Regions from separate parts of the Homo sapiens genome. Here region 2 is linked to region 1. Evidence: fine-mapped expression QTL. A gene starts in region 1. The other region holds a variant in brackets. All regions are shown on one strand. Distances are between the middles of the regions.

Region 1 (4,391 bases):
AAGATCTGGAAAGGGCATGTTTGATCCTAAATCATTAAAGGTAGCCTATCTAGGAGAAAAACCAAGTCGCCTTTGGAATGCTAGTGGAAGGGGGAAGGCCCCGGTTCTCCACCCTGGTTATTAGTTACCTAAAACATATTTTAAAAACCGCATATGTCCCTGTAGGACCCCATACATTCTGATTCAACTGGTCTGTGGTAGGAAAAAGTGGCAGCTTTTAAAAATTTTTAGAAGCTTTTTGCGAGGTGACTCTAATGTTAAAGCAGGGCTATTTCCAAACCCCCTGGAACTCTAGCAGGCCAGTGACAATTGTATCACACCTACAGACTCATCACTTTAATGCAGTTGCTTCATGTTATTAGATAATATCCCTGCCCCACAACGCAGAAGACTAAGCTAGGAAAGATGATGTCATACAGCTCATCCCTCCTTCAAACACTGGAGCGTGATGAGTGCAGCTCAGTTCCAACACTTGGGTCTTTATTTATTATTATTATTTTTTGTAGAGACGGGGTCTCGCTATGTTGCCCAGACTGGTCTCAAATTCATGACCTTGAATGATCCTCTCACCTCGCCTCTCACAGTGCTGGGATTATAGGTATGTGCCCAGCCCTGGCTCCTCAACGTAAGACATAGCACTGTGCCCCAACCCTCAACTCCAAGAATGGCTACATTTACTTTCTGCCTGGCACTGTTCTAAGTGCCTAACATATCTCAACATCCCTAATAGGTTGGTATCATCTCCACTTAACAGATGAGCTGCTGGGATCTGAGAGAGTTAAGTGACTTGTTAAGGTCACAAACCTGTTTCTGGGTGGGTCCGGACTCTTTCCCACCATATGCCGTCACTTACAGGCTGTGAGTTTATGCCCAGCCCCCCTCAAGGAGCTGCCTCCTGCTTTCTATTGCATAATCAATATCGACACCTGGTGTAGGGGCGCTCTGCAGGGTGGGGAAGGCCTGGCCTGGAGTGAGGGATCCTGCATCTCAGCATCAGGCCCTGAGTAGGCCTCTGCCCTTGTGGTAGGGTAACCCACCCTCCTTCATAGCTCAGAGGTCTGAGGGGGTTTGAGGGAAAGACTAGAAAGCCTAGGAGGCTTCTTCTATCTCTCACCCCTCCTCACTCCCAGTCCTGTGCCACAGGATTTCACTCACAGCTCCTTCCACCCCCACCCTTCCCCTGAAAATCTCACTGCCCTGTGACTTCTCTATGTGCCACTCCCTGTGCGTCAGACCCCCACGATCAGCTGCCCACTGCCTATGGCCACCCCAATTCCTTAGAACTACACTTATCACTGCTCACCCTTCTCCTACTCTCCCCCTCTCAGAAAATGACACCACATCCAGGAAACTCGGAACCACCACTAGCCCAGCGCTCCCTCTTCCCCATTCACTCAGTCACCAAGTCCCCTCAATTTCACCACTCAAGATAGTTGTCAGACCATGGCGCCTGTCCATCTCCATTTCCCTAGGATAGGCCTTGGTGTCTGAGGCCAACCCTGCCTCATTTCCTCCTAACCCCCACCCAGGCCTTGTGCTTTGTGTACCACCACACCCAACCAAAGGTAGTTATTACTTCTTTGGCTCCCAGCACTCAACTGAGCGCCCCAGCTCTTCCTCACCTGCCGGGACACTCCAGCTGACTCCAGATTGCGACGCAGGCGTTTACGTACCAGCCTTTCTCCAGGTTCAGGGCGCTGCCACATCTTCAGCCCCGACCCGCCGCAAGTCTCATTTCCTCCTAACCCCAACCCAGGCCTTGTGCTTTGTGTACCACCGAACCCAACCAAAGCTAGTTCCCTGACTTGCTCTTTTGGCTCCCAGGAGCCTTTAGGTACCGGCCTTGCGCCAGGTTTAGGGCGCGGCCACACCTCTAGCCCCGCCCCACCGCAGGCCCAACCCAGAGGCTGCTTTCGGTTACCCTAGGGTTCCTGGGCCCTGGACTTCAACCCGGTCTGCAAGCCCCGCCCTGATTAGCTGCCTCCCGCACCGGTCGCGGCGCCCCGCCCCCAGGCGCCTAGGTTCCTCCCCTTATCCCTGCAGGGATTGGGCCTTGCAGCACCGCCCAGGCTCGGATTGGTCCGAGGTGAGACCCGCCCCTCTGCCCATTGGGCCTTCGGGACAGCAGAGGAGCAGTGTCCGGCCATGGCCGGAGCCCGCAGGCTGGAGCTAGGCGAGGCCCTGGCGCTGGGGTCGGGCTGGCGTCATGCGTGCCACGCTCTCCTCTACGCGCCGGACCCTGGGATGCTCTTCGGCCGCATCCCGCTGCGCTACGCCATACTGGTGAGAAGGGGGCGCGCCCGGCCACTTTCTGCCTGAGCCCCGCACCCTCTCTGGTGGTCTCCTCTGGGGCGCCCCTGCCAATCCCCGCTTCCCCCTCCCGCAGATGCAGATGCGCTTCGATGGACGCCTGGGCTTCCCCGGCGGATTCGTGGACACGCAGGACAGAAGCCTAGAGGACGGGCTGAACCGCGAGCTGCGCGAGGAGCTGGGCGAAGCGGCTGCCGCTTTCCGCGTGGAGCGCACTGACTACCGCAGCTCCCACGTCGGGTCAGGGCCACGCGTTGTGGCCCACTTCTATGCCAAGCGTCTGACGCTCGAGGAGCTGTTGGCTGTGGAGGCCGGCGCAACACGCGCCAAGGACCACGGGCTGGAGGTGGGACCAGCCTGGGACTCTGTCCCTTTCCCAATTTCCTCTTCTCCCAAAGCTTTCTCTCCCCCAAGAAAGCATCCCTGGAGAAAAGTCTTTGCCCCTCTGACCTTGCCCTCTCCCCAGCTTTCTTGGTGGAGTTGGGATCGTGATCATCTATACTCTGAATTAGTACTGCCAACCTGGGCTTTCTGTAAAGGTCTTTCCCACCCTTTACCAGGAGAGATCCTTTCTAGAACACACTCATCCATGTCTCTCTGCTGTTCCCTATTGACAGTGTGATAGATTATCACATTATCTAGGTGTGGCAACCTAGGTTTTATTCTTGGGGTTTGCTTTTCTTGTGTAGGAGATGTGGCCCTGATATTTCAGGCAGGGCTAGTAGATAGATTATGTATGAAGGTGGTTCTCAAAATTTGGCAGGTAGCAGAATCATCGGGGCGTCTTATTAAAATAGCGATTTCTCTCAGCATTCCTGCATTGGTGGTGGGGCGGGGGGAGAGGAAACCTGAGAATTTGTAGTTTTCAAAAGTTCCCAAATAATGCTGATGCAAATAATCTGAGGACCACATTTTGACAACCACTGGTGAAAGGGTATGAATACATCTTTGAGGCAGTAGCCACTAGAGGTTTAGAAGCAGATGTGGGAAAGATTAATTGATAGAGCTAGATAATATGTTTTGGGTCATTTTCCTGCAGAAGGTTGGGCCACTAGGCTTTAGTGAGGTGTGAGCCTTGGGCCTGGTTCTGCTGGAGTATTAAGGGGTGAGGCCTGATCTGCTGGAGAAAGGATGGAGTTAAGGGAATGAGCCACCTGGGGCCCTAGTGTCTCCTGTCTCCTTCCTTTTACAGGTGCTGGGCCTGGTGCGAGTGCCCCTGTATACCCTGCGGGATGGTGTAGGAGGCCTGCCTACCTTCCTGGAGAATTCCTTTATTGGCTCTGCGCGGGAGCAGTTACTTGAAGCTCTCCAGGACTTGGGACTGCTGCAGTCTGGCTCTATTTCAGGCCTTAAGATTCCAGCTCATCACTAGAGGCAGCCCTCCATGGACCCATGAAAACTGAGATGAGGACCTTGGTACTAGGGAGGGAGGGAAGGACGTGGGAATGTTTTCTTATTGGATCTGAGAGATGATACATGATACCAGATGAAAAGAAGGAGAAGTGTGTACCATATGTTTTGAGCAGAGGACCCTCCAACTTATGGCATCAGGGGCAAAAAGTCACAGCTTATCCCAGGCACCCTGGCAGGTTCTCAGAGCCTGCCTCCTCCCTGTTTATATGCGTACAGCCTGGTAACCCCCAGGCATGCAAATATACAATCTGTAACAACACACAGCCTGACACCTTCCCCTGGTCATGTCCAGTTTAACCTTGAAGTGGCATTTGTCACACTACCCTGGTCCCTGATTGCAAGGAGCTTCTGAAGCAAGGGTGAATCCTTCCCACACTCCTCCATGGTTGCCCTCCAGGGTCTAGCCCAGCCTATTTGTTAGGGAGGATAGAGAAACAGAGCACCCCCTGTGCTTTCTGAAAATAGACTTGCTCTTGTCTTGAGTGGTGACCAAAGCAGTTGGCTCTTAAAAGGTGGGAGAGCAGCCCAACCAATCCCCAATCCTTTTCTTCTGAAACTGAGCAGGAAGGGTAAGGAAGTGGCTAGGTCTCCTTGGACTGAGCATGGACATGAGTCCTGTGAGGACTGGTGTCTCTCCTCTAGAGCTTTCATCTTTGGGATGCCTGAGA
Region 2 (4,391 bases), 130 kb before region 1:
GTTTATGCTGTTGATTTGTTTCTTTTGCTACACAGAAACATTTTAGTTTAATTAAGTCCCATTTGTCTATTTTTGGTTTTGTTGCTTATGCTCTTGTAGTCTTAGTCATGAATTCTTTGCATAGACCAATGTCCAGAAGAGTTTTCCCTAGGTTTTCTTTAAACAAAAAAATTTTTTTTATTCCAATAGGTTTTTGGGGAACAGTTGGTGTTTGGCCACATGAATAAGTTCTTTAATGGCAATTTATGAGATTTTGGTGCACCCATCACCCTAGCAGTGAACACTGTACCCAGCGTGTAGCCTTTTATCCCTCACCTCCCTCACCCTTTCCCCACAAGTCCCTAAAGTCCAAATGTATCATTCTTATGCCTTTGTGTCCTCATAGCTTAGCTCTCACATGAGTGAGAATATAGGATGTTTGGTTTTCCATTCCTGAACTACTTCACTTACAATAACAGTCTCCATTTCCATCCAGGTTGCTGCAAATGCCATTATTTCATTCCTTTTTATGGCTGAATAGTATTCCGTGGTGTGTGTACCACATGTGTATGTGTATCACATTTTCTTTATCCACTCATTGATCGATGGACATTTGGGCTGGTTCCATATTTTTGCAATTGCAAATTGTGCTGCTATAAACATGCATGTGCATCTTTTTCATATAATTACTTCTTTTCCTCTAGGTAGATACCTAGTAATGGGATTGCTGGCTCAAATGGAAGATCTACTTTTAGTCCTTTAAATAATTTTCATACTGTTTTCCATAGTGGTTGTACTAATTTACATTCCCATCAACAGAGTAAAAGTGTTCCCTTTTCACTGCATCCATGTCAATATCTATTATTTTCTGATTTTTAAAATTATGGCCATTTTTGCAGGAGTGAGGTGGTATCACATTATGGTTTTTATTTGCATTTCCCTGATACTTAGTGATGTTGAGCATTTTTTCATATGCTTGTTGGCCATTTGTATATCTTCTTTTGAGAATTGTCTACTTATGTCCTTAGCCCACTTTTTGATGGGATTTTTTTTTGTTTTCTTCTTGCTGACTTGTTTGAGTTCTTTGTAGATTCTGAATATTAGTGCTTTGTTGGATGTATAGATTGTAAAGGTTTTCTTCCACTCTGTGGGTTGTCTGTTAATTCTGCTGTTTATTTCTTTTGCTGTGCAGAAGCTTTTTAGTTTAATTAAGTCCCATCTATTTATCTTTGTTTTTGATGCATTTGCTTTCAGGTTCTTGGTAATGAAGTATTTGGCTAAGCCAGTGTCTACACGGGTTTTTTCTGATGTTATCTTCTAGAATCTTTATGGTTTCGGTCTTACATTTAAGTCTTTGATCCATCTTCAGTTGATTTTTGTATAAGGTGAGAGATGAGGATCCAGTTTCATTCTTCTACATGTGACTTGCCAATTATCCCAGCACGATTTGTTGAATAGGGTGTCCATTTCCTACTTTATGTTTTTGTTTGCTTTGTTGAATATCAGTTAGCTATAAGTATATGGCTTTATTTCTGGATTCTCTATTCTGACCCATTGGTTTTTGTGCCTGTTTTTATACCAGTACCATGTTGTTTTGATGACTATGGCCTTATAATATAGTATAGTTTGAAGTCAGGTAATGTGATGCCTCCAGATTTATTCTTTTTTCTTAGTCTTGCTTTGGGTATGCAGGCTCTTTTTTGGTTTCATATGAATTTTAGAGTTTCTTTTTATAGTTCTGTGAAGAATGATGGTGGTATTTGATGGGAATTGCATTGAAGTCATTTTCACAATGTTGATTCTCTCCATCCATGAGCGTGGGATGTGTTTCCATTTGTTTGCATCATCTATGATTTCTTTCATTAGTGTTTTGTAGTTTTCCTTGTAGAAATTTTTCACTTATTTGGTTAAATGTATTCCTAGG[G/GT]TTTTTTTTTTTTTGTAGCTATTGTAAATGGAATTGCCTTCTTGATTTGGTTCTTAATGTGATTGTTATTGGTGTACAGAAATGCCATAGATTTTGGTATGTTTATTTTGTATCCTGAAATTTTACTTAATTTGTTCATCTAATCTAACAGTTTTTGGAGAAGTCTAGTGTTTTCTAGGTATAAGATCATATGATCAGCAAACTGAGATAATTTGACTTTCTTTTTTCCAATTTGGGTGCTATTTATTTTTCTCTTGCTTGGTTGCTCTGGGTAGGACTCCTAGTACTGTGTGGAACAGGAGTAATGAAAGTGGGCATTCTTGACTTGTACCAGGTTTAGGAGAATTGCTTTCAACTTTTCCCCATTCAGTATGATGTTGGCTGTAGATGTGTCATATATGGCCTTTATTATTTTGAGGTAGGTTTCTTTTATGCCTCATTTATAGAAGGTTTTATCATGATAGAATGCTGACTTTTTTCAAATGCTTTTTCTGCATCTATATAGATGATCATATGGTTCTTAAAAAATTTATGTGGGTACATAGTAGGTGTTTGTGTTTATGGAGTACATGAGATTTTTTAAATAGGCATACAATACATAATAATCATATCATGGAAGCTGAGGTTTGGGTCTGGAAAAATGCTTGGGGCACTTCCTGGAGCCTTTCTTTCTTACAGCCTGCCAGCCTTTCTCCAAGTTAGCACCAGGGCTGGTGAGGGACAAGGTGCTCTTCCATGGCCTGGATTGCATGGTCCCCCCGTGGAAAGCTGGATCACAGAGAAACAGTCTCTCTCACTCTCCCATATTAGGGCTTTACTCACAGTTCTCAGTCAGTTGTTGGCATGCAGGCTGTCTACCCATCCTCTCTTCACTGGGATCTTTCCTTTTCCAGTGAATTCCTCTGTTCTTTCTTGAATAAAAGATTATAGTGTGAATCTCTGTGCACTATTTTGCTTTTTCCATGTGAAATATTTAAAAATATTTTTAGGAGAAATTAGATGCAGACCCTGTTCTTTTACCAGTTTCAACCAAAATTATCTTCACTCTTATCTGTTTTATAAATTGAATTTCTATAAAAGATTGTGTCTGGAAAAAGATAGATTCCACTGCTAAAAATTGAAATAGCACTGATTGAATAGTTAATATCCAAATTCCTTTCTAGGCTGGGTGTTTTTTTTTTCCTTAAAGAAATGAGCATTAGAATCATGGAGTAAAAATACACATTTATCTCTGCTTGAAGTCCCACTAACATGACAAAAAAGGAAAAAAGCTAATATAAACCTACAGAAAAAAAAGAGAACATAAGAGGAGATGGAAGCAGATGAGAGCTTTAGTGAACTTGAGAAAGATATAAAGCAGATAGATGAGTGATAACTGATTTAGAAAACAGAGAAAGCTGAAAGCTAAGTGCCTAAGATGTATATAGGAAAGAAGGGAAGGTAAGGTGTAGGCTAGGAGAAGCAAGGCAACTGAACCTACAGAATCTCATAAATGCTCAAGATTTGGAGGCCTCAACTACCGCTGAAGGCATGGTATAGGTGAAGATTAAAATGGGAAGATTGGTTGACAGTGTGCGTAAGGAGAAATAGACCCCAGGTGCCTTTCTCTCCACTGGCACAGCCACAATATTCCTCTCCACAGTCAAGACAGAAGAAAACAGACTCGATTTGGGGGAACATTGAATCAGGAAGGTTTTAGGGACACCAAAGGACAGGGTGATGTGATGTGATGAAAACAAAGAGATGAGTTGAAAGTCTTCATATTAAGTTATGAAACCCCCAGATACCATTCCTACTTGGCTTCTGAAACACTGGAAGAACAGCATGGACTCCTTCAGGTTCAGAAAAGCATGGACTCTTTAGAAGATATCTCTCTGACAGCATTTACCAGCCTGAGAATCCTAAGGATGTTAACATTTCCTCAACAAAATGGTGGGAATGAGCGCTACCAGTTGACAATCTCTGAATCTGCAGAAAGAGCTTAAACTGACTTTTAATTTTTCACACTTAAATGTGAACATGTAGCAATGCAGTAGCCAGTATCTGAGGAAATCTAACCAAAAAGAGAAATCAAGACAAAAATATACAAAGAACTCAGGAAACAGACAATGTAGACAAGAAAATAAAAATTCAAAAACTGTGTATCCACAAAAGTTTTTTAAAATAAAAAATTAAAGAAACAATATTAAAATTCTAAAAGATAGCAGAGAAAGTATTACCTCTGTGAAGCAAATCATACAGAGAATAAGAAAGAGCTCTTAAAGTTATAATTTTAATGGCAGAAATAAAAATTCAGTAGAAGGTTTGGAAGATAAAAGTGAGGAAATTTACCAGAATATAATTAATAAATGGTAAGAAAACAAAGTGATTCATCTACGTGATTCAGCACCTAACAAATAGAAATTCCAGGAAAAAAGAACAGAAAATGAAAAAAATTATCAAATAAATAAGAAAAATATCTAGAGAGAATCAAACAGACCACTTATAA

Evidence for each region. PIP is the estimated chance that this variant, and not a neighbour inherited with it, causes the effect. A credible set is the group of variants that fine-mapping cannot tell apart.
Region 2: its variant is the best candidate, but not a certain one, in a credible set for the expression of NUDT16 in whole blood (INTERVAL, PIP 0.60).

The regions. Positions count from the first base shown.
Region 1 is chr3:131,379,660-131,384,050 of GRCh38, forward strand. It overlaps NUDT16 (nudix hydrolase 16), which reads left to right and starts at 2,115. Exons shown (of 3, transcript NM_152395.3): 1 at 2,115-2,283; 2 at 2,387-2,656; 3 at 3,503-4,391. The coding sequence starts at 2,146. The coding sequence ends at 3,682. NUDT16-DT (NUDT16 divergent transcript) reads right to left here and starts at 1,816. Exons shown (of 4, transcript NR_038976.1): 1 at 1,674-1,816. RefSeq lists enhancers at 1,424-1,693, 1,985-2,554, 2,555-3,123 and a silencer at 1,804-2,103.
Region 2 is chr3:131,245,936-131,250,326 of GRCh38, forward strand. The region is part of intron 16 of NEK11 (NIMA related kinase 11); the gene reads left to right. Among named protein-coding and RNA genes, the nearest start is that of NUDT16-DT, 130 kb to the right of the region's middle. The variant G/GT (reference allele first, on the strand shown) is at 1,904.